Linked DNA regions of Homo sapiens: region 1 is linked to region 2. Evidence: fine-mapped expression QTL. A gene starts in region 2. The other region holds a variant in brackets. All regions are shown on one strand. Distances are from middle to middle. Region 1 overlaps PLXNB2 (plexin B2). Region 2 holds the start of DENND6B (DENN domain containing 6B).

The links. PIP is the estimated chance that this variant, and not a neighbour inherited with it, causes the effect.
Region 1: its variant is fine-mapped to the expression of DENND6B in whole blood (TOPMed, PIP above 0.99).

Annotation. Positions count from the first base shown.
Region 1 is chr22:50,301,036-50,306,255 of GRCh38, forward strand. The region is part of intron 1 of PLXNB2 (plexin B2); the gene reads right to left. Among named protein-coding and RNA genes, the nearest start is that of PLXNB2, 4.0 kb to the right of the region's middle. RefSeq lists enhancers at 1-518, 4,265-5,220, 4,854-5,220 and a silencer at 656-705. The variant T/A (reference allele first, on the strand shown) is at 3,257.
Region 2 is chr22:50,324,301-50,329,772 of GRCh38, forward strand. It overlaps DENND6B (DENN domain containing 6B), which reads right to left and starts at 2,712. Exons shown (of 20, transcript NM_001001794.4): 1 at 2,512-2,712. The coding sequence starts at 2,688. RefSeq lists a silencer at 2,461-3,100.

The sequences.
Region 1 (5,220 bases), 23 kb before region 2:
CCCTAGACTGGGGCCCCAGGCTGCCCTCCCATCCTACACACAGTTGTGAGGCCCTCCTCAGCCTCCTCTCTGGCCACGGCCCACTGGCGCATCTGGAGGATGGTCCTCCCCAGCCCTCAGACAGAAGGTGGGATCCAGTTGGCTACGGCGCCCTGTCCCCACACGCACCAGGCCTGCAGAACCACCTCTCTCCTCAACCACCCCTTTCGGGGTCCCAGACCCCATCCTGTCCAACCTGGGCACAGCTGCAGCCCCCTCTTGCTACACCGTGGTCCTTCGGGTCAGAAAGCTGGGCAGCGCAATGAACCTACCGATGTCTCCGTGCTTCCTGAGGACCTCCTGTGGGAGGGGTGGGCACCGCCAGGCGCTCGGGGCACACGAGGCCGATGGCTACAGCAGGAACCACCAACTCATCAGGACAGGACATGCGGTCAGACAGCAGGCGGCCACGGAGGGACTCTCGTGGGATTCTGGGGCTCAGTCACTTGGAGTCTCTCCTGAAAGGAGGCCTCCCGGCCCGCCGGTGCCCAGCCCCACCTGCAGGCTCTCCTCTGAGTGGCCCCCACGCATCTCCCCCTTTCCAGCTCAACCCCGCAGCAGCCGGCTGCTCAGAGACCAGGTCCTGCCTGGATGCAGCTGGCTCAAGACCAGCCCCCGCCCACAGCCCCCTTCTCACCCCCGGGGTGGGCGTTGGGGGGTGGACGGGTGAGGCCCCAGCCAGTGAGCAGTAAGCAAGGCCTGTAATCTCCCCGTCAGCCTGTCAGCGCCTCAGCGGTCACCCCAGCCCCGCCTCGCCCATCACCGCTGAACCCCACAATTAGCTTGGGGCACCGCGCCAAGCCTGTGTGCCAGACACCACTTGCACACATGACCACACATGTGCAGACACACATGGCTGGGTGCTGCCGGAAAAGCCCTGCCAACAGGGTCTCACCCCAACACCCAGAACTCGTCCCCAGTACAAAGAGCCTGGGAGAGAAGCCTCAGGCCGGGGCACTTGGGCTAAGAGGGGCAGTGGGGCTCTCAGAACCCAGCGCTGCCTGGAGCCCCGAGGGAGGGGCCATGTGTGGCATGGGGAAGTGGGGTGGGGGCAGGGCCGTCTCAGCAGGGGAGAGGGGCTGCGTCTGCCCAGGATGAGCTGGGGGCTGGTGAGGCACAGGGTGTTGGGCAGGACCTGGGTCCAGGCCAAGGGTGAGGCAGCCCAGGGTGTGGGCTGGGCCCCACAGGGGCAAACACTCAGGGCTTTGGGAGGCCAGAGGGACAGGGATTTCCCAGTGAGGAAATGCCCATCTCAGAGTGGGGGCAGGACAGTGAGTGGGAGGTGATGCCCGTGGCTGGAGCTGTGTGGGGAGGTGGGTGCCCCTGGAGGCCAGGTCCAGCCCCTTGCTCCACGCGGAGGCTTGCTCTGCTCATGGTGGAGCTGAGGACTTCAAACCCCACAGGGCCTGGTCGAGAGCCACTGGGCCCCAGGTCTAGATGTGGAACTGGGGGACCCTCCAGCGAGCTTTGCTGGGCCTGGGCGGCCTGCCTGGGGCGCCCCACCTTCACGCCCTCCTCCCTAACATCCTTTTCTCCTGAAGTCCCTCAGGGTGGTCACCAGATCAGGCTCGGTGCCAACATAGGAGTGGGGAGGCCAAGCCCCTCAGCTCCCCTGGCCAATCTCTGAGGCTGAGAGGGAGTGGGGGGGGCCATGCTGGAGCACCTCCCTCCCACCACCTGCCCCTTGCCCCTGTCAACTGCTGGCTCCACTTAAAATAGCTTCTCCCCCTCGCTGGTGGGAGGGAGGCCCTGGTGTCAAGCCGGTAAGGCTGGAGCAAGGCTGGGCACAGGGCCTGGGCTCAGCAGTGTTCTGTGCCCTCCATCTCCTCCAAAGCAGGCCCCAGCTCTGAAAACACACCTGACAGGGCTGGGATCCACAGAGTCCTCACCTCCTGCTGGTCCTCAAACCCCACTCTCCATGGCTGGGTCCCTGAAATACTTGGATTACCCTCAAGCCCCCCGCCATCCCCCCAAGCTGTGGCTCCCATGCCACCCTACCACGTCTGAGTCACACAGGCCCAGGCCTCCCTTGCTTCCCCCAGGAGAGACCCCCCCACACTCCTGCTTCTGGCCTGTCCTCAGAGCCCCAGAACTCACCTAGGTTCAAAGCCAGACCCCAGCTGAGGACAGAGCATGGACCCCAGGCAAATGCAGTGACAATCACAGAGCACGCTCCTACCACAGCCACCCACGCAGCCTGAGGCATAGCCCCCTGGAAACTGCCTCGGCCTTCAGCACCCCACTTTGGACCAGCAGGGCAGGGGGGTTCCTCCTCTGAGAAGTCCTCAAAGCTGCCTGGAAGGAGCAGACAGTGCCCCCAGACGCCAATCTGACAGGGGGCCCAATCTGTCTCTGAGCAGGTGGCATGCTGGCTCGGGGGCCCCAGACCACAACAGAAGGTCACCTGGGAAGAGAGCCGCAGCCCTACACAAGGCTCGTGGGCAGGAACCGTCCCAGCCACAGGAGCAGACGCCCTTGCCTGGCCCCTCAGGGGGCCGTGTTCACACAGGAGGCCTTCTCAGAGGTGGACACCAAGCACTTCTCTCTCTTGCGCTTGCTGCGGGACTCAGCTGGGGCAGCATCAGGCCCAGAAATCGGTGCTGGACACTGTGTCTCCACACAGGGCCCCCCATGGAAGCTGCTGACCAGCTGTGCCAGAGGGGCCGGGGCCCTACCCCCAGGAGCCCAGTCCCTGCCTCTGATGCTGCTGCTGCTGGGACCCTGCTGGCAGAGCTGGTGGCTGAACTGGGGCAGCACCTCCCTCTCCTGCCCCAGGCCTGGGCCGGGACTCAGCTGGCACTGGAATGAGGAACTATTGGCTTTCAGAAGCCAGGAGACCTTAGGGGGCTGAGGAAGAGAGCTGGACCTGCCCCCAGGCGCCCTGATCCCAGCCCAGGGCAGTCTCCTCCCTCACCTAGCCTGGGACATGAGGCAGCTCAGGTGTGGCCTTAGGGGCTACCCCCAGGGAAGGCCACCAACCATAGCGGGCCACGGTGTGGGCTGGCCTCTGGGTGTGAAGGGCTCCAGGATCTGGGCTGCAGAGGCGGGACTGTGCGAAACAGAACCCCCAGCTCCACAGCCAGGCCAGCCCCAGGCTCCTCCCCAGACAGACATCCCCGGGGGTGGGGCAAACCTGCAGTACCACCAGGGGCAGCCTGTCCCACCATCCCCGGCACCACTGGGCCTGGGGCCAGTCACTGTCACAGGTTCATGAATC[T/A]CACAGGGCAGGGTGGATCCACTGGGGGGGTGCGGGGTGCCAGTGTTCAGGGCCAGACGGGAGGGGCCCAGCCAATCCCTTCACACGCTTGGTCTTCAGAGAGAAGGCTTCTGAGCCAGGAGGGCCACTGTGTCAGGGCCTGGCTTGAGGCCACACCTGTGGCTGGGGGAGCCCAGAACAGTGCAGGGTCCTTCCCTGGTAGGCAGAGAAAGGCAGGGGTCCTTACAATCCAGGGGTATGGGAAGAAGCAGGCCCTGTGTCAAGGGATGTGAAACCACGGAAAGGAAGAAGGTGGAGGAACCTCGACCAGAAAGAGGGAAGCTAGGGCAGCTGCCTCCCCGGGGCCCCAGAGCCTGAGCACCCCCCACCAGCCAAGGCTCTGACCCACCCTCCCCATCGTGTAATTAGTCAGAGACCCAGCCCCACCCCACCCACAGCCCCACCCCAAACACAAACAGCCACTACCCCTGAGGGAGGGAGGGGCTGTGGCCAGTCCCAGCCCTACTGAATCTCCCACCCCCAGAGAACCTGGATCTGCCTCAGAGAAGGGAGGTCAAGGCTGGGGGGCCACTTGCTGGCCACTGGGTGAATTCTGAGCAGCTCACCACCTCATCCCCAAACCGTGTCCAAGGCAGGCTCTGGGCACAAGAGGTTCCCCGCCAACTTCCAAGGAGGGCGGCCAGGCTGCAGCCAGAGGGACGGAGGCATGAGCTGAGTGAGAACTCCCAGCTCAGGGGAAGGCAGCCCTCGTGGCAGAGGCCTGGCATCCAAGTGCCTGCCTAGCTCAGAGAAGGCACAATATGAGGGGCCGGAAGACACAGCCTCTCCCAGCCAGTGCACCCCTGCCCACGCCCGCGTCCCAGGGGGACCATCAGCTGTGGCTGGCACAGGGTGAGGCAGGGGGCAGGACACGGTGAGCACGGACGACGTCCTGGGATGGGAGGAGGACTGTGCCATATGGGCCCTCCCCACCACCTTCCAATCCAATCTCTTCTGCTCCACTTCCCTGGGCCGGGTCCAAGGCTCTGGGCTTTCTGCACTTGGGGCCAGCTGCCGGCTCCTCCTCCCCGATGTGGTCCCCATGCAGGCCGCCGGGCACACACCCCGGGCGCACACACAGCATGGACCCAGAGCGCCAGGTAGCCACAGCCCTGGCCACACAGCATCGCAGATGACTCCTCACATAGACCTATCTCTGGCCTCAGTCTCCCCACCTGCAGGATGGGCTCACAGGCGCCATATCCAGAGGGGGTCGTAGGCAAGGACTGGCTGTCGGAGGGGCTTGGAGGGAGGCTGGTCCGTTAGTCAGGAGCTGAATAGGGAGTCCGTTGGGGCAGGAGGGCCCCCTGAGGGAAACCCCAGTGCCCTCCCTAGCAGCCTAGCCTCGCTCCTGCCTGCTCCTCCCTGGCACGCACAGGTCACTGGCACAGGGTGTGTCCCTGAACTTGGGCCTGGAGGGTACCTCAGAGGCTCTTCAGACCACCATTGAGACTTCTCGGGGCGAGGGGGTCCCTGGGTGGGGCGAGGGGGTCCCTGGGTGGGCCCAGAGCTCCTCCTGTTCCATGGTCTCCCCCAGAGGGGCTTGGGCCCACTGCAGGCTCAGCAGGGCCTGCTGGGGCCAACCTTGGGGCTTTCTCCAACCCAAAGGTGACGCATCTTCTCCCCGCCCAGTCTGGGCAGCTGCAGTAGAAAGTGGCAGAGCTGCCCGGACTTGCCCGTCCTCCTCCTGGGGCCCTCAACCCACGTCCCGGAAGTGGATCCTTCTCCCACGCTGCAGCCTCCCGCTTCGGGTGACTGGACACGGCTGGATGATCCAAAATAATTCTTTCTTGGCAGGCAGCCGGTGGGGGAGGGGGACTCACATTCCAAACCCTTGTTTTTCTCAGTAACTTCCCTCCTCTACTGGGGCAAGGAACCCCTGGCCAGACCTCAGGCCTCCCAGACCCCCCGGGACAGAGGTGGGC
Region 2 (5,472 bases):
CCACTTACTCTCCATATCACTGGCACATAGTGTGAACTCCTAAAGGGCAAGAGCCTTGTCTACTCACTTACATGCTGGGCACCAGTATTGTGGGGCTGGGCTGGTGATAGCTGCTCAATGTGATCTACGGTTTTGTTTTTTGAGACAGAGTTTCACTCTTGTTGCCCAGGCTGGAGTGCCATGGCGCGATCTCGGCTCACCACAACCTCCGCCTCCTGGGTTCAAGCGATTTGCCTGCCTCAGCTTCCTGAGTAGCTGGGATTACAGGCGTGCGCCACCACGCCCGGCTAATTTTGTATTTTTAGTAGAGACAGGGTTTCTCTGTGTTGGTCAGGCTGGTCTCAAACTCCTGAACTCAGGTGATCTGTCCGCCTCGGCCTCCCAAAGTGCTAGGATTACAGGCGTGAGCCACCATGCCCAGCCTTCAAAGTGATTTACTGAATGAGTAACTGAATCACCAGCTCCTTGCCTTTTGCTTATGTTGGCATTTTGGGAGAGGGGTTACCTGAAACAGGACCCCCTCCCCTGTCTCTTCTCAGCATCCAAGACTTATTTACCTAAGCCCATTCCTTCCTCTGAGCTGCATGCATCCCAACTAGAGTCTTCCTTCCATATCGCAGAACCAAGCACAGTCCTGGGGCTTTGCAGTGCTTAGCTGGGCTGAGCTGTGACTGAGTTGCACAGTGGGTGCTCCCTAAGTCTGTAAGTGACTAAAACGACCTCGATCTTCCCTGTGACTTCCAGGTGAGGGAGGAAAGGCAAGAGTCATGTGCTCAGGCCCCGGTGGATCCACTGCCAGGTTTCTGCACAGACTCAGTGATCTGCAGGTGCCCAGATCATTGCTATGGAGGGTTTCGCTCATGGACCTGGGTCCCCAACACTCTGCCAGCTGACCATGCCCCTAGTCCGAGCTGAGCATCCCCAGCAAAAGCTCAGGAGTCCAAGCACACACAGCCTTCAACAGCTCAGAAATAACTTTCCGAATGGGTTTTAGAAAATAACACGAGAATGTCTTAAGGAACAGAGGAACCTCCTTTTTTTTTTTTTTTTTTTTTGAGATGGAGTCTCACTTTGTCGCCCAAGCTGGAGCGCAATGGTGCAATCTCTGCTCACTGCAACCTCCCCCTCCCGGGTTCAAGCCATTCTCCTCCTCAGTCTCCCGAGTAGCTAGGACTACAGGAGTGTGCCACCTCGCCCGGCTAATTTCTGTATTTTTAGTGGAGATGTGGTTTCACCATGTTGGCCAGGATGGTCTCAAACTGCTGACCTTGTGATCTGCCTGCCTCGGCCTCTCAAAGTGCTGGGATTACAGGCATGAGTCACCGCGTCCGGCCAGGAACCTCTTAACTTCTTTTGTGATTTTGTGGGGAACAATCTGGGCAACAGTATTGAACTAAGAAAGGTTTTCAACCCTGGGCAGGTCACCACACTTCTTGGTACTCAGCCCCCACCCAGTGATGCTGTTTGAGGCTGTGCACCTGCTGGGGACCGTGTGTGGTGGGAGGGGCTCCAGAGAGTGCTAGAGTTAATGCTTTTCTGTTTAGAAGACTATATGCTTCTCATGGCCTCTTGGAGTTCAGCAGGGCCTTAGAAAGCATCTCCCAACCACAGAGACGCGCTGCCTGGCTTTCCTGATGATGATGATTTGGCCTGATCTTGGACACCTGCGGTAATAGAGAGCTCACTACCCCTCACGAGGTTCCTTGCGCCAGCGCGGGGAAGCCTCCCTCCATCTGCAGGTGGGCCTCCCCTGTGCTGGTCAGCTCCCTGGTGTGTGTTACACAGGACACAGAGAAGATCATCCTGCGGGGCCTCCCTGGAGGAAAGGAGGCTGCCTGTGTGGGTAGGTGAGTGGAGGCCTGCAGGCAGCAGAAAGACCACATCGAAAGCCCATGGGCACAGCCGATGAACAGACCCCCACGAGCAAGAACACCACAAGACGCAGGTGGAGGGACGGGGCCCATGGGGTCTGGATCTGATGCTAGGTGAACAAGGAGGCGCTGCAGGGTTTTAAGCAGGAGAGCCACAAAGGTTGAACTCTGGGGTGCAGCTGGGGTGGGGATGACATCAGTGATGGCAGCAAAGGAACGGATCCGAGACCTTTGTTGCAGAAGGAGCCGTCAGCCTCGCCTATGCCCAGAGATGGGATGCGGAGCGGAGGGTAAGCCCGGGACTCTGGCGGGAGCCACTGAGGGGATGAAGGTGTCACTGCTCCGGTGGGGAATGGAGGGGGGAGATGTGAGACATTTACTGGGAAAAATCGAAAGAGTACCACTTAGGTTATGCAAAATGCTCCATCCCAATGTGAAGACAAGATCCGACTCCGAGCAGCTCGCCTTCCCTCCTCGGCCTGGGGAGCGCTTCTGGAGCCCGGAGAAGAGGCCCCTCCAGGAGGCGGCGGCCGAAGGCCAGGGAGAGTGCGGGGCGGCCGAGGGCCCCAAGCGAGGCGGGACTGGCCCCGAGAGGCGCAGCCCTGCCCACCCGCCCGCGCCCGCGCTCGCGCCCGCTCACCTCCAGCGCCTGGCCCAGCTCCAGGTCGAAGGTGACCACGCACACACACTCCAGCCAGGCGGAGAAGCGCGCCCAGGGCGCCGCCGGGGTCCGCGCCGCGCGACCTGAAGACGTGGGTCCAGCCGCGCCCAGGCAGCCGCGAGCCCGGCGAGGCCCTGTGCCCAACAGCGCGTCCATGGCGGCGGCCGCGGGTTGCCGGGGAAACGCGGGCGGGGGCGGCGCGCGTCCGGGCCGCTCCTCAGAACAGTCGAGCGGCCGCCGCGGCCCAGTGCGGCTCCCGCGCGGCCGCGCGCCCCCTAGCGCCCGAGAAGCGCCAGCGGCCGGGCGCCGCCCAGGGCACCAGCGAGCCGGACGCGCGCGGGCCAGAGCGGCCGGAGCCCACTGGGGGACTTCCGGGGAAGCGGCCGAACTGGGGCCTTCCAGGGTCCACGCCGTCTGAGGCCCGAGAGAGTCGGTTCGGCCCCGGTGTTCGCGGATCCCGGCTCGCGGGAGCCTCGGGGCCAGGCCAGGGAGGCAGAGCAAGCTGCAGCCAGCCGGCGCCGGGCTCGTCGGGCTTCGCAGGTCCGGCCAGCCTACCTCGCCCCACCGCGCAGGGGCCAGCGGCGTCGCGGGCGTTTTCGTGGCGGAATGGCGTCCTCACTGAGCGCCCAGCCACCACCGCGGACTCGCGCTCGCTTCCTCTGGGGCCCGCGCGGCCTGGGGTCGTGTCTGACCGCGGGTGTCCACGCAACACCTCTGCAGTTTCACTTTCCGGGGGAATCGCGGGGACCTGGAGCGAACTCTTCCCTCCCTCGCGAGGGCCCCGGGCCCCGCTGTGGTCCACAGAGCACCTTGAGGCCCGGCGTGGAAGGGCGAGTTTGGGGCTGTCGGTAACTTAATGAGGCACGCCTTTGAGTCGTGGGCCTCATGACGTTTCCGTGGAAGGCGGGCCGCATATACTGTGGTGGTCCCTTCAGATTACCACGTGTTGGCCAGACGCGGTGGCTCACGCCTGTAATCTCACCGCTTTGGGAGGCCGAGGTGGGGTGGCGGATCACGAATCCAGGAAATCGAGACCAACCTGGTGAAACCCTGTCTCTACTGAAAATACAAAAATTAGCCGGGCGTGGTGGCTGGCGAGCGCCGTAACCCCAGCTATTGGGGAGGCTGAGGCAGGAGAATCGTTTGAACCCCGGAGGCGAAGCTTGCAGTGAGCTGAGATGTCGCCATTGCACTCCAGCCTGGGCGACAGAGTGAGACTCCATCTCAAAAATAAAAAAATAAAAGATTACCACGTGTTGTTCGGATCATCTGGCCTAGGTGTGGGGTAGGCTGTCCCATCTAGGTTTGTCACATAACAAAATCGCCTAATGACACATTTCTCAGGACATAGCTTCACCGTTGAGTAGCACATGGCCGTATTGTTTTTTGTTTGTTTGTTTCTGTTGTTTTTTTTGAGACAGAATGTTGCTCTTGTTGCCCAGGCAGGAGTGCAATGGCATGGTCTTGGCTCACTGCAACCTCTGCCTACTGGGTTCGAGCGATTCTCCTGCCTCAGCCTCCCGAGTAGCTGGAATTACAGGCGTGCACCACCACGCCAGGCTAATTTCTGTATTTTTGGTAGAAACGGTTTCACCATTTTGGCCAGGCTGGTCTCGAACTCCTGAGCTCAGGTGATCTGCCCGCCTCGGCCTCCCAAAGTGTTGAGATTACAGGCGTGAGCCACTATGCCAGGCCCGACTGTATAGCTTTTATTTTTATTTTTAGAGGAAAGGTCTCACTCTCTCCCAGGATGGAGTGCAGTGGCCCATTGCAGCTCACTGCAGCCTCGATCTCCTGGCTCAAGCTATCCTGCCACTCAGTCTCCTAGGTAGCTGAGGCTACAGGCACACGCCGCCATACCCCATTATTTTTTTATTTTTATTTTTTGTTCGTTTTTGTGGAGATGGGGTCTCGTGCTGCCTGGGCTCATTTTCATTTCTCTTGGGCGTGCATAGAAACCAAATTGCTGAGGCATAACCTGGGTATATGTTTAGCTTTCCCCAAAGCAGCCATACATTTAAAAACATTCCTACCAGGCCAGGCGAGGTGGCTCATGCCTGTAATCCCAGCACTTTGGGAGGCTGAGGCTAGTGGATCACCTGAGGTCAGGAGTTTGAGACCAACCTGGCCGACATGGTGAAAACCTGTCTCTACTAAAAAATACAAAAATTAGCCAGGCATGGTGGCGGTCACCTGTGATCCTAGCTACTCAGGAGGCTAAGGCATGAGATCGCTTGAACCTGGGAGGTGGAGGTTGCAGTGAGCCGAGATCAAGCCACTGCACTCCAGCCTGTGTGACAGAGCGAGACTTTGTCTCAAAAAAAGATAAAAAAAGAAAATGGAAACATTCCTACCAACAGTTTATGTTTCCTTTGCTCCACATCCTTCCCAACATTTGGTGTTGCCAAGCGTCTTCATTGTAGCCAGCCAATGAGTGGGTAGTGGTATCTTGTGATTTTTAAAATTTTGTTTATTTTATAGAGAAGAGATCTCATCCTATCACCCAGGCTGAAGTTCAGTGATGTCATCATAGCTCACTGCAGCCTGGAACTCCTGGGCTCAAGGGATCCTCCTTCATTGGCCTCCCAAGTAGCTGTAACTACAGGCATGTGCCACCGTGCCTGGGTATTCTTGTGGTTTTGATTTGCATTTCCCTGATTACTAATGGTCTTGAGCATTTTTTTCCCCTGTGGTTATTGCATGCCATCATTGTAAGATGTACTCTGATTTTGAGGTAGGAGGCAGAACTTTATTCCAGACCAGATTAAAGACTGGCTGAAGGCCGGGCGCGGTGGCTCACGCCTGTAATCCTAACACTTTGGGAGGCCGAAAAGGCGAGCAGATCAGCAGATCGAGACCATCCTGGCTAACACGGTGAAACCTCATCTCTACTAAAAGTACAGAAAATTAGCCGGGTGTGGTGGCTGGTGCCTGTAGTCT